2 separate regions of the Homo sapiens genome follow, and region 2 is linked to region 1. Evidence: fine-mapped expression QTL. A gene starts in region 1. The other region holds a variant in brackets. All regions are shown on one strand. Distances are between the middles of the regions.

Region 1 (5,359 bases):
AGCTCACACCACCCCATATGGAGCCCCCAGCCCGGCCCTCACAGCTCAGCTGCCCGGCCCACGCACAGTCACTGGGACTCCGGACTGGGACTCTGGACTGGAGGCCGGGCTGGCAGTGGCCTAGAGTGGGACACCGGTGGTTTATGGGACACCACAGACATGCTTGAGCGCCGACTGTATGCCAGCTGTCCTACCAAGCCCGCTCAGCAGCCCACGTTGCAGAGGGGCCAGTTGAGGCCTGGGAGTGGCAGAGCCAGATTTGGACGCCATCGTCTGTGGGTAGCCCTGGGTGAGCCCTGCCCCACCCTGAGCTGAAGTGTCTTGTCCAGCAAGGACCCTGGGGCCAGCCGCCACTCCTCACCCACACTCGCTCACCCCGGCCTGGGTGTCTGCCGCTTTGTCAGCTGGGTGTACAGTTCCCTGCGTGCCCGGCCAGCTCCCTGTCAAAGTGAAAGCTCCTCGGGGCAGCCTCCCAGCCCGACCTTCCAGGACACACAGGAACGTCTTTGAGGTGGTTGTTCTGGGGCGTCTGTGTCACGATCTCCCCTGGCCCCTTCCTCGCCCTGCACCTCCCCTCCCCTGGCAAGGTGCCTCCCAACACCGCCGTTCACTGTTCTGCGCACCCACCTGCACCCTTGTTCACGTCATTCACTGTTCTTTTTTTTTTTTTTTTTTTGAGACGGAGTCTCGCTCTGTCGCCCAGGGTGGAGGGCAGTGGCGCGATCTCAGCTCACTGCAAGCTCCACCTCCCGGCTTCACGTCATTCTCCTGCCTCAGCCTCCCGAGTAGCTGGGACTACAGGCGCCCGCCACCACACCCGGCTAATTTTTGTATTTTTGGTAGAGACGGGGTTTCACCGTGTTAGCCGGGATGGTCTCGATCTCCTGACCTCGTGATCTGCCCGCCTCGGCCTCCCAAAGTGCTGGGATTACCGACGTGAGCCACTGCACCCGGCCAACCGTTCACTGTTCTGTGCACCCACCTGCGCCCTTGTTCACGTGTCTAACTGCTGCGCGCCTCTGCTCTGGGAGCCCCAGGAGGGTGGGCGTCTCTGTCACCACTGGGTCCCCCATGCGGAGCACAGCACCCACAAGGTGCCCGATTAGTGACCAGCGAATGCACGAAGGGCAGGAGAGCCCTCAGCTAGCCCTCACCCCCATCACCGTCCAGCTGGGGAAACCGAGGCTTGGAGAGAGGCAGAGACTGTTCCAGGTCAGGCAGCGGAGCCAGGCCTCTGCCCCGGCCCGAGGCCACCCCGCCTGGCCATGCCCGCCATGGATGGACCGGCCCAGCCAGTCCCCTGTCCGCCCTCGTCACGTGCGGCCTAATGAGGGCCTTGGCGCCCAGATGAAAGCGGTGGGAAGGACAGGGGGTGATTACCTGCCCTGATGGTGGTGATTCAGGCGGCAGCCAGCGGGCCCGGGCCCCCTTCCCAGTGCCCCCCGCCCGGCGGGGACACCGACTCCCCTGGCCTCCAGGTACCCACATCCCCTGCTGTGCCCAGCCTCTCCTCTTGCTCCTGACATTCCACAAACACTGAGGGCCTACCTCAGTGTGCTCGGCAGACCCTGGGGACAGAGACGCCCGCTCCGTGACGTCCTGGGCCCTGTGGGGACCCAGCTCCGCCACCCCTGTCAGTGTGACCCTGGGCAGGTCCCATCCCTTCTGTGTGCCTCCTTGTCCTCACCTGCCAGATGGGGTGTCTGGGAAGAAGCAGAGGGGGCCCCGACTCAGGCAGCCCTGACTGGATTCTGTGATGTCAGGAGTCCGGAGGTCAGCCCCCCGCCGCTTCCGCCATGCAGCTGGGCCTGCCCCAGCCCCTCTGGAGCCTCAGTTTCCCACCTGCAGATGGGTGGCCCCACCCACAGGGTTGTACCACACGGACGCTTCTCTGCCCCTGAGCCGGGTCCGCCGCTGCAGCCTTCGCTTTAACAGTGCAACCCTCCCACCAGGCAGGCTGCACCCATCTCACAGACCACGGAAACTGAGGCCGAGGCTGCACAGAGGAGCCTCCGGGACTCCCCCGCGGGCGCAGGTCACCGTGAAGACGGCGGCCGCGTTGCCGTCACCCGCCGCCTCCCCACCCCAGGCCCCCGCCGCCCCGCACTCACTGTCCTGGCCGTGGCGCCAGCGGGTGCCCTGCACGCGGCCGCCGGGATCCACGCGCAGGAAGAAGTGAGTGGAGGAGAAGAGGCGCCGCCAGCGCACGTCGCCCTCCAGGTGCGGGTAGCTGCGCGGTCCCCGCGACGCGCTCGGGGTTCCCGCGGCGTCCGGCGCCCGCGCCAGCAGCAGCCAGGCCAGGCCCAGCCACAGGCGGCGGCGCATGACCCGGCACCCGGTTCGCTGCGCGCTCGTCGCTCCCGGGCGTCCGCGGCTCTGCCTTCGCGCGGCGGGGCCAATGGGGCGCCTCGGGGGCGGGGCCGGGTTCGCTGGGGCGGGGACGCCGGCCAATGGGGTGCCTCGGGGCGGGGGCGGGGTCCACTTGGGCGGGACCAGGCTAGGGCGCCGGCCAATGGGACGTCTCGGGGGCGGGGGCCAGGTGCACAGGGGCGCGGCCGTGCGGGACTCCGCGCTCGGCCTCCGCGCGTTTGTTGTTTGTCTCGCGGGGCGTGTCCGTGAGTCAGCCGAGTCCCCGGGCGGGCTAGGACCTCGGGTTGCGGGGGCGGGAGTGTGAGACGCGGGCCGCAGAGACCTGGAGGGAGACAGAGACCCGGAGGGAGACAGAGACAGAAAGACGGCGGCAGTCAAGAGACACAAGGAAGATGACCGGGAGAGACGAGAGAGACACAGAGACAGAGAGGGGCAGAGGCGGAGATGCTTGGGGACAGAGATGGACACGGGAGGTCCTGCCGCGTGCGTCAGCCGTGGGACCAGCCAGGCTCCGGGGCATGCCCTCGTGGGACTTCTCTCCCCGCAAATTGTAGTTTCCCGAAAGCCAGGCCCACAAGGGTGTGGGAATGCGCGGGTGGGTGGGCAGGTGACGACTGGGGACGTGTGTTTGGGCAGGTAGGTGGGCAGGAGGGAGGATAGCCACGTAGACCTGTCGGTGGCCGGCTGGCGGGGCACGTCGGAGGCGGCAGGAATGGGGCGGCCCCATTCGCACCCACACTTGCTCCTCCCTTAGAGCCATACCCCAGGCCCCACGGGGAACCACCCAGCAAGGCGGCTGGCCCCCACCCTTCCTCTGCCTGCCCCATGCGCTGGGCCCCAAAAGGTGAGCACAGTGACCCTCACAGACTCACAGCCAAGTGGAGGCATTGACAACTGGGGAAACCGAGGCCTGAGAGGGGCGGCGACCTCCGCTGTGGGGACACAGCTCCCAGCAGCCCAGTCCTGGCCCTGCGGCCACAGCCCCAGGTGGCACCCACCTTTAAATAGCACCAGGCTGAAGACATGGCGACCAGCCTGTCCTGCCGGGGAGCCCTCTGGAGGGATAACCGGTCTGGCTGGACGCTGGGATGCCTTCTTGGTGGCTCAGGCATCTCCTGACCCTCTCTTCCTGGCTTAGGCGGGTCACACAGAGGGTGTGGCAGGTGCCACAGTCTCAGGGACAGGGGTCCCCATGGCTGAGGTCCAGCCTGGCCTGGCTTCCCACACTAGAGCCCTGTGGCCAACACCCCAAGCTTCGGTTCCGCCTCTGTAAAATGGGCCAGTAAAGAGACGTCTGGAGGAAGACAATGAGACCCTCCACGGAGCACGCTGGGCAGAGGGCGCGGCACCAGACACTGAAGAAATGTCCACCGCCTTCTCGCCAGCAGGAGCCCAGGTCTTCCCTTCTTAGAGTGTCCGCCCCCCACCGCGGAAGGGTGATCTGAGGGCCTTGTGAGAAATGATGGGGATGGGACCCACAGCGGTGAGACTGGCCCCACCCCAGGCGTCTGAGTTTCTTTAATGACACCTCGGAAACATCACTCATATACCACACAATTCACCCACTTACACTGTACAGTTCAGTGATTTTATTTTATTATTATTTCTTTGAGACGGAGTCTGGCTCTGTCACCCAGACTGGAGTGCAGTGGTGCGATCTCGGCTCACTGCAAACTCTGCCTCCCTGGTTCAAGCGATTCTCCTGCCTCAGCCTCCTGAGTAGCTGGGATTACAGGCACCTGCCACCACACCCAGCTAATTTTTGTATTTTTAGTAGAGACAGAGTTTTACCATGTTGGCCAGGCTGGTCTCAAACTCCTGACCTCGTGATCTACCTGCTTCTGCCTCCCAAAGTGCTGGGATTACAGGCATGAGCCACTGCACCCAGCCAGTTCAGTGATTTTAGTACCTCGTAGAGTTGTGCAACCACCACGACTGTCTAGTTCCAGAAGATTCCATCACCGCAAGAAGAAGCCCCATCAGCTGTCACTCATCCCCTCTGCCAGCCCCCGGCACCCACACATCCCCTTCCTGCCTCTGTGGATGGGCCTGTTGTGGACATTTCATATAAAGGGGATCACACACTGTGTGTCCTTCTGTGTCTGGCGTCTTTCACTGAGCATGACATCCTCAAGGTGCATCCGCGCTGTGGCTGGGGCAGAGCCTTGCTCCTTTTCACGCCTGTAATCCCAGCTACTCAGGAGGCTGAGGCAGGAGAATCTATACAACCCAGGAGGCGGAGGTTGCAATGAGCTGAGATCATGCCACTGCCCTCCAGCCTGGGCGACAGAGCGAGACTCTGTCTCAAACAAAAACAACAACAACAAACACCGATCAGGGCTGGGCTGGCGCACGCTTTGTATTGAGTGGTGTCTTCCTCTTTGTAGCCTCTGTGGTTGGCCCAAAGGTAAGTCCCCACCCTGATCCCTAGAATGTGACATTTGCCTTATTTGGAAAAAGAGTCTCAATATATTGACACCATGAAGATCTGAACGATATGGAGAAGATTGTCCTGGGGCATCCTAAACGCGGTCACAATACGGAGACAGGAGGAGATTTCACACAGGCAGACGAGGAGGCTGCAGTGCGACCACAGAGACCGAGACGGGAGTGATGTGGCCGCAGGCCAAGCACACCTGGAGCCTTCAAAAGCTGGGAGAGGCAGGAAGGAGCCCCAGGGCCTCTGGAGGGAGCGAGGCCTCCACACACCTTGACTTCAGCCCCGCAGTCCTGATTTTGGACTTTTCATTTCCAGAAATGTAAGAAAATGAACGTTGCTTTAAGGCACCGAGTTTGTGGTAATTTGTCACAGGGGCTCCAGGGACCTGGGCCATCCCCTTCCATCTAGCGATTCTCGACTCTGTGGGGTTTGCTTGGTTGGGTTTTGTTTTGTTTTGTTTTTAGACAGAGTCTCGCTCTGTCGCCCAGGCCGGAGGGCAGTGGTGTGATCTCGGCTCCCTGCAACCTCCGCCTCCCGGGTTCAAGTGAT
Region 2 (5,292 bases), 22 kb after region 1:
GGAGGTGGTCCTAGAGTGTGCGGGAGCCATGGCTCCTGGTCTCTCCCGGGAGCGTGCGGGGGCTCCGGTGCACTTGGCTGGGGGGTGCACGGCCCTAGGAACGGCTCGACCTGGGGGGTGGTTTGGGGTCCCACACGTCTCTGCCTCTCTAGCTTCCATCTCCCGTTTGCCGCCCCTTCCTCAGGACGGCTCTTGCAACGGCCTGCAGCATTATGCTGCTCTGGGCCGCGACAGCGTGGGCGCCGCCTCCGTCAACCTGGAGCCCTCGGATGTGCCGCAGGACGTGTACAGCGGCGTGGCCGCGCAGGTAGGGTGTGCCCTGCTGCCCGGGGGCATCTCGGCGTGGGGGCAATGTGAGCCCTGAGTCTCGGCCCCAGGTGCCCTCACCTTGGCCTGTCCTGAGGATGTGGTGGGGCTGGGGCGGGGGCTTCATGGGTGCTTGGTGGCCCCTGGGCTGCTAGCGGGGCTGACCCGCGCCCCCGGCCCACCCGCCGTGCAGGTGGAGGTGTTCCGTAGGCAGGACGCCCAGCGGGGCATGCGGGTGGCACAGGTGCTGGAAGGTTTCATCACCCGCAAGGTGGTGAAGCAGACGGTGATGACGGTGGTGTACGGGGTCACGCGCTATGGCGGGCGCCTGCAGATTGAGAAGCGCCTCCGGGAGCTGAGCGACTTTCCCCAGGTGCGCCAGGCATGTCGCGCTGCGAACACGTTGGTTTCACTGCCATTTAAAACTCAGACGGGTGTGCCCCCGACCCAGCCTCCCAGCAGGAGCCCTGGCTGCTCCCCCAGACCACTGGCTGCCTGTTAGGGCTTGGGCGTTTCTTGCTGACTGCGTGGGCGCCAGGCCCCATTCCCCTGCCCCCCTGCTAGGCCCTAGGCCTTGGGCCTCAGTGGCTCTGAAATAGGGGGGAGTAGGGCGTGAACGGGCCAGCCCCTGAGGACCTGCACCTGCTGCCCGCCCTCTGCAGGAGTTCGTGTGGGAGGCCTCTCACTATCTCGTACGCCAGGTCTTCAAGAGTCTACAGGAGATGTTCTCGGGGACCCGGGCCATCCAGGTACGTCCTGTCCTGTCCCCGCTCGGCCAGGACTCCCTAAGCAAGTGGACGGGATCCCCGGCCTGAGCCCCCTGCCCTGAGACGGCCTGTGTCCCACAGCACTGGCTGACCGAGAGTGCCCGCCTCATCTCCCACATGGGCTCTGTGGTGGAGTGGGTCACACCCCTGGGCGTCCCCGTCATCCAGCCCTATCGCCTGGACTCCAAGGTCAAGGTCAGTGTACCACCCCATCCCTCCCCAGTGTGCCACCATCCCAGTGTAACAGCGTCCCAGTGTACCAGTGCCCCAGCGTACCACCACCCCAGTGTACCACCGCCCCAGTGTGCCACCCCATCCCGCGCCAGTGTGCCACCATCCTAGCGTGCCACTACCCCAGTGTACCACCACCTCAATGTACCACCACCGTGCTGGGCCTCGGGTGGGACTCACCGGCCCCTTCCCCTTTTTAGCAAATAGGAGGTGGAATTCAGAGCATCACCTACACCCACAACGGAGACATCAGCCGGTGAGTGGGGGGCCCGGGCTGGGGCCTGGCCGGGGGTCTGGAGAGCAGCCACGGTGGAGACAGCGGCCAGTTAGGGGTGTCCCTGGGCCGCCCCCACCGGCACCTGTTCCGTCCTCAGAAAGCCCAACACACGTAAGCAGAAGAACGGCTTCCCGCCCAACTTCATCCACTCGCTGGACTCCTCCCACATGATGCTCACCGCCCTGCACTGCTACAGGTGGGCGTCTCCGGACGGCGTGGGTGCCGCTCGCCTCCCAGGGGCGTCTTCTGGCTAGCAGGGCACAGCTGGCAAGGCTGGGTCTAGCTGGGGGCAGGGACTGGGCAGAGTGGATCTGCTGTGTCTGTGGGGCCTGTGTAGAGGCCCTGAGGCTGTGTGCCCCGAATGTAGGTGGTCCTGGCAGCTCCCCTCCTGTGGCCCGACAGGGAGAGCCGAGCATGGGCGCTGCCCCTTCCTGCTGGGCATTTCTTGGCACCGCGATGTGTGGTTAGATCTGGAGCACGTGGAGGTCGTTCCAGCAGAATCTACCGGCCACGGGAGCTGGGAATGCTCAGGATGCGGGGTGGTGGCCCTGGCAGGAGGGGACCTCGTAGCCGCCCTCGGAGCTGAGGCTCCCACAGCAGCGTGGGGGGCGGCAGGGGTGGGGCGAGGAGGCTTCTGGGAACATTTCCTCCCCCTGTACTGATACCTAACCCAGGATGTTTGGGGAGGGGCGGGGCGAGGGGTGGGGCGAGGCCTGCAGGAGGGTGGGCTTCCCTGGACCTCAAGTGGAGGGGGCTGAGCGCAGGGCCAGGATGCTGGTCACTGGGTGGCCCTGTGAGCTCCCCTCCCTTCAGGAGTCCTCCGCTCTGCCACAGGAAGGGCCTGACCTTCGTCTCTGTGCACGACTGTTACTGGACTCACGCAGCTGATGTCTCCGTCATGAACCAGGTGCCCCCGTAGTCTGAGCCTCAGTCCACCCATGGGTGGGGCCCCCACACTGGGGCGTTGGGTAGGGGTGGTGCCCAGAGCCTGCCTGATCACCCCTGGGGATCCTCTGACTCCTGCCCAGGTGTGCCGGGAGCAGTTTGTCCGCTTGCACAGCGAGCCCAT[C/T]CTGCAGGACCTGTCCAGATTCCTGGTCAAGCGGTTCTGCTCTGAGTAAGGCGCTCCCTGACCCCAACTACCTGGATTCCCCCCCCACCCCAAAACCTGGCCTCAGCCTCACCCCACCCTGCTTCCAACCCCAGGCCCCAGAAGATCTTGGAGGCCAGCCAGCTGAAGGAGACACTGCAGGCGGTGCCCAAGCCAGGTAGGCGGGTGGGCAGCCTCGCAAGGGTGGCTCGAACTGCGGGCCAGGGCGGGGCTTTCCCGCCACCCACGCCGTCCGCTCTGCTTCCTCCGCAGGGGCCTTCGACCTGGAGCAGGTGAAGCGTTCCACCTACTTCTTCAGCTGACACCCCGTGAGCCTTGTCAGTGTGTAAATAAAGCTCTTTTGCCACCCCCAGGAGCCACTGTCTTCAGGAAGGGTGCACGCCCTGCGGGTCTCGGGCAATCACACGCGGCCAGGCTTGGCGCCAATGCTGTCGTTTATTGCGCGGAATGGGGGTGTGGGGGTTAATGGGGCGTGGGGGGCCACGGTGGGGGCACTGCTGCCTCGGCTCGTCAGTACATTCATCACGGCGGCGGGACCCCAGCCTCCCCCCCGCGCCCTGCGCAGCCAGGCCTGCCTCTCGGTGCCAGTGCTGGAGGGAGGCGGGGTGCTGCTCCCCGAGGTCACCGGGGGACGCGCGCGGACGGGGGCCGGGCCGGTTATTGCGTGAGCGCGATGGGGGCAGCGGGAAGCCGGCGGGCCAAGTATTGCACTTAGAAAACGATCCTCCTCGGACGGGGGCCACCTAGAGGGTGGGGGGCGGGCGGGGCTCCACAGCCGGCTCCTCTCAGCCACTGGGCCGCCCCGTCCCTGTCTTACAGCTGGGGGAACTGAGGCACCGAGGTGAAGGGAGCCCCCTCGCACGCGAGGCCGCCGCCGGGGGCAGGGGCGATGGGGGTGGGCGCGGGGCGATGAGGGGGGACGGCCGGGGGCGCGGAGGGGGCTGCCCCGCCGGCCCTGCCCGTCCGTCCAACTACGGCTACCTACGTCTCGTCTATGGCTTCTGGGCGGACTGGCGGCCGGGGCAGCGCAATGGCATGGCTTTGGTCTGGATGACGGCCCCGCCCCCGGCCCGCCTGGGCCCGCGGGGCGGTCGGCGAGGGTCACAAGTTGGACGAGAGGCGCGAGCGCGCGGAGTCCTGGGGGTCCAGGCCGCCGGCGGCGCCGGGTGAGGCCGAGTCCCTGCGGTCCGGGCTGGGCGCGGCGGCCCGGGCAGCGGGCGTGGGCCCCAAGCGCGGTGTGGAGCTGCTGGCCGGGCGTGTGGAGGCCGCGGGGCCGGGGGCGCCGTGAGGCAGCGAGGGCTGCGAGGCGGACAGTGGGCGCGACGCGCGGCTCAGGCGGCGCGCGGGCAGGGCGGGCCCAGCAAGGGGGGCGGCGGGCAGGCCGCCGTAGGGCGAGGTCCGCGGTGCCCGGGGGCTGGCGGGCGCGCCCGGGGGGCTGGCGGGGGGCGGGGGCCCGGGTGAGGCGGCGGCAGGTGCGGGCCCCGGGGGCGGGCGGCGCACGAGGCGCGGCGAGCCGAGCGCCAGCGGCCCCACGAGCGGCCGCGCCACCTGCGGGCAGAAGCTCATGGCCGCCGCCTGCTGCAGCGTGGCGATGGCCGAGGTGACCTGCGGCGGCGGCGGCGGCGGCGGGAAGAGGCCCACGCGCTGACCCAGCTCGGCCTGCTGCACCATCTCGCGGTCGTACTTGACGATCTCCTGGATGATGGCGTTCTCCTGGTTGTTGAATACGCCCGAGTTGAGGTCATGCTGCACCTTGTGCAGGAGGATGGAATTCTTCTTGCCTGCGGGAGAGGGGGCGTTAGCGTGTGCACAGGGAGCGCCTGCTGCGTACAGCGGGCACCGAGCACCTACTCTGCACCGCGGGTGCGCACACAGTGCTTGCCGTGTAGAGCAAGCATGCATTTACCACCTACTGTATACAATAAGCACATATGTAGCATCTCTGGCCTATAGTATGGATATTGAGTACCTGCCATATACAGGCTGAGCACCTGCTATGCACAGCCAGCATGCATGAAGCACCTGCATACAGAAAGCAGGGCTTTTGTTTTGCTTTGTTTCTGAGACGGAGTCTTGCTCTGTCGCCCGGGCTGGAGTGCAGTGGCGCGATCTCGGCCCACTGCAAGGTCCACCTCCCGGGTTCACACCATTCTCCTGCCTCATCCTCCCGAGTAGCTGGGACTACAGGCGCCCGCCACCACACCCGGCTAATTTTTTGTATTTTTTTTTTAGTAGAGACGGGGTTTCACCATGTTAGCCAGGATGGTCTCAATCTCCTGACCTCGTGATCCACCCACCTTGGCCTCCGAAAGTGCTGGGACTACAGGCGTGAGCCACCGCGCCTGGCAGTAAACAGGTATTTAATGCCTGCTGTGTACATGGAGCAGGTATCACTGTGCACCAAGTATGCATGTGTACCACCTGTATACGCTGATTATGTAATGACTGCCTCCAGTGTGCCACAGGCATACCGAAAACACCTGCCTGTACACAGCCTGTGCTGAGCACCTGCTGTATACAGAAGTTATAACCTAAGCACCTGATACTCAGGAACGGGTTGCATACTCACTGTATAGAGCAAGTTGTGGAGAGCTTCCTACTGT

The links. PIP is the estimated chance that this variant, and not a neighbour inherited with it, causes the effect.
Region 2: its variant is the best candidate, but not a certain one, in a credible set for the expression of FGF22 in esophagus mucosa (GTEx, PIP 0.66).

Annotation. Positions count from the first base shown.
Region 1 is chr19:636,892-642,250 of GRCh38, reverse strand. It overlaps FGF22 (fibroblast growth factor 22), which reads right to left and starts at 2,372. Exons shown (of 3, transcript NM_020637.2): 1 at 2,112-2,372. The coding sequence starts at 2,325. It overlaps LOC105372234 (a long non-coding RNA gene), which reads right to left. Exons shown (of 2, transcript XR_936226.2): 2 at 3,945-5,359. RefSeq lists a silencer at 2,200-2,689 and enhancers at 3,031-3,756, 5,131-5,190.
Region 2 is chr19:614,973-620,264 of GRCh38, reverse strand. It overlaps HCN2 (hyperpolarization activated cyclic nucleotide gated potassium and sodium channel 2), which reads right to left. Exons shown (of 8, transcript NM_001194.4): 8 at 3,106-4,470. The coding sequence ends at 3,791. POLRMT (RNA polymerase mitochondrial) reads left to right here. Exons shown (of 21, transcript NM_005035.4): 12 at 185-307; 13 at 500-679; 14 at 969-1,055; 15 at 1,155-1,268; 16 at 1,505-1,560; 17 at 1,679-1,777; 18 at 2,416-2,488; 19 at 2,610-2,695; 20 at 2,785-2,846; 21 at 2,942-3,044. The coding sequence ends at 2,991. Among named protein-coding and RNA genes, the nearest start is that of POLRMT, 16 kb to the left of the region's middle. The variant C/T (reference allele first, on the strand shown) is at 2,651.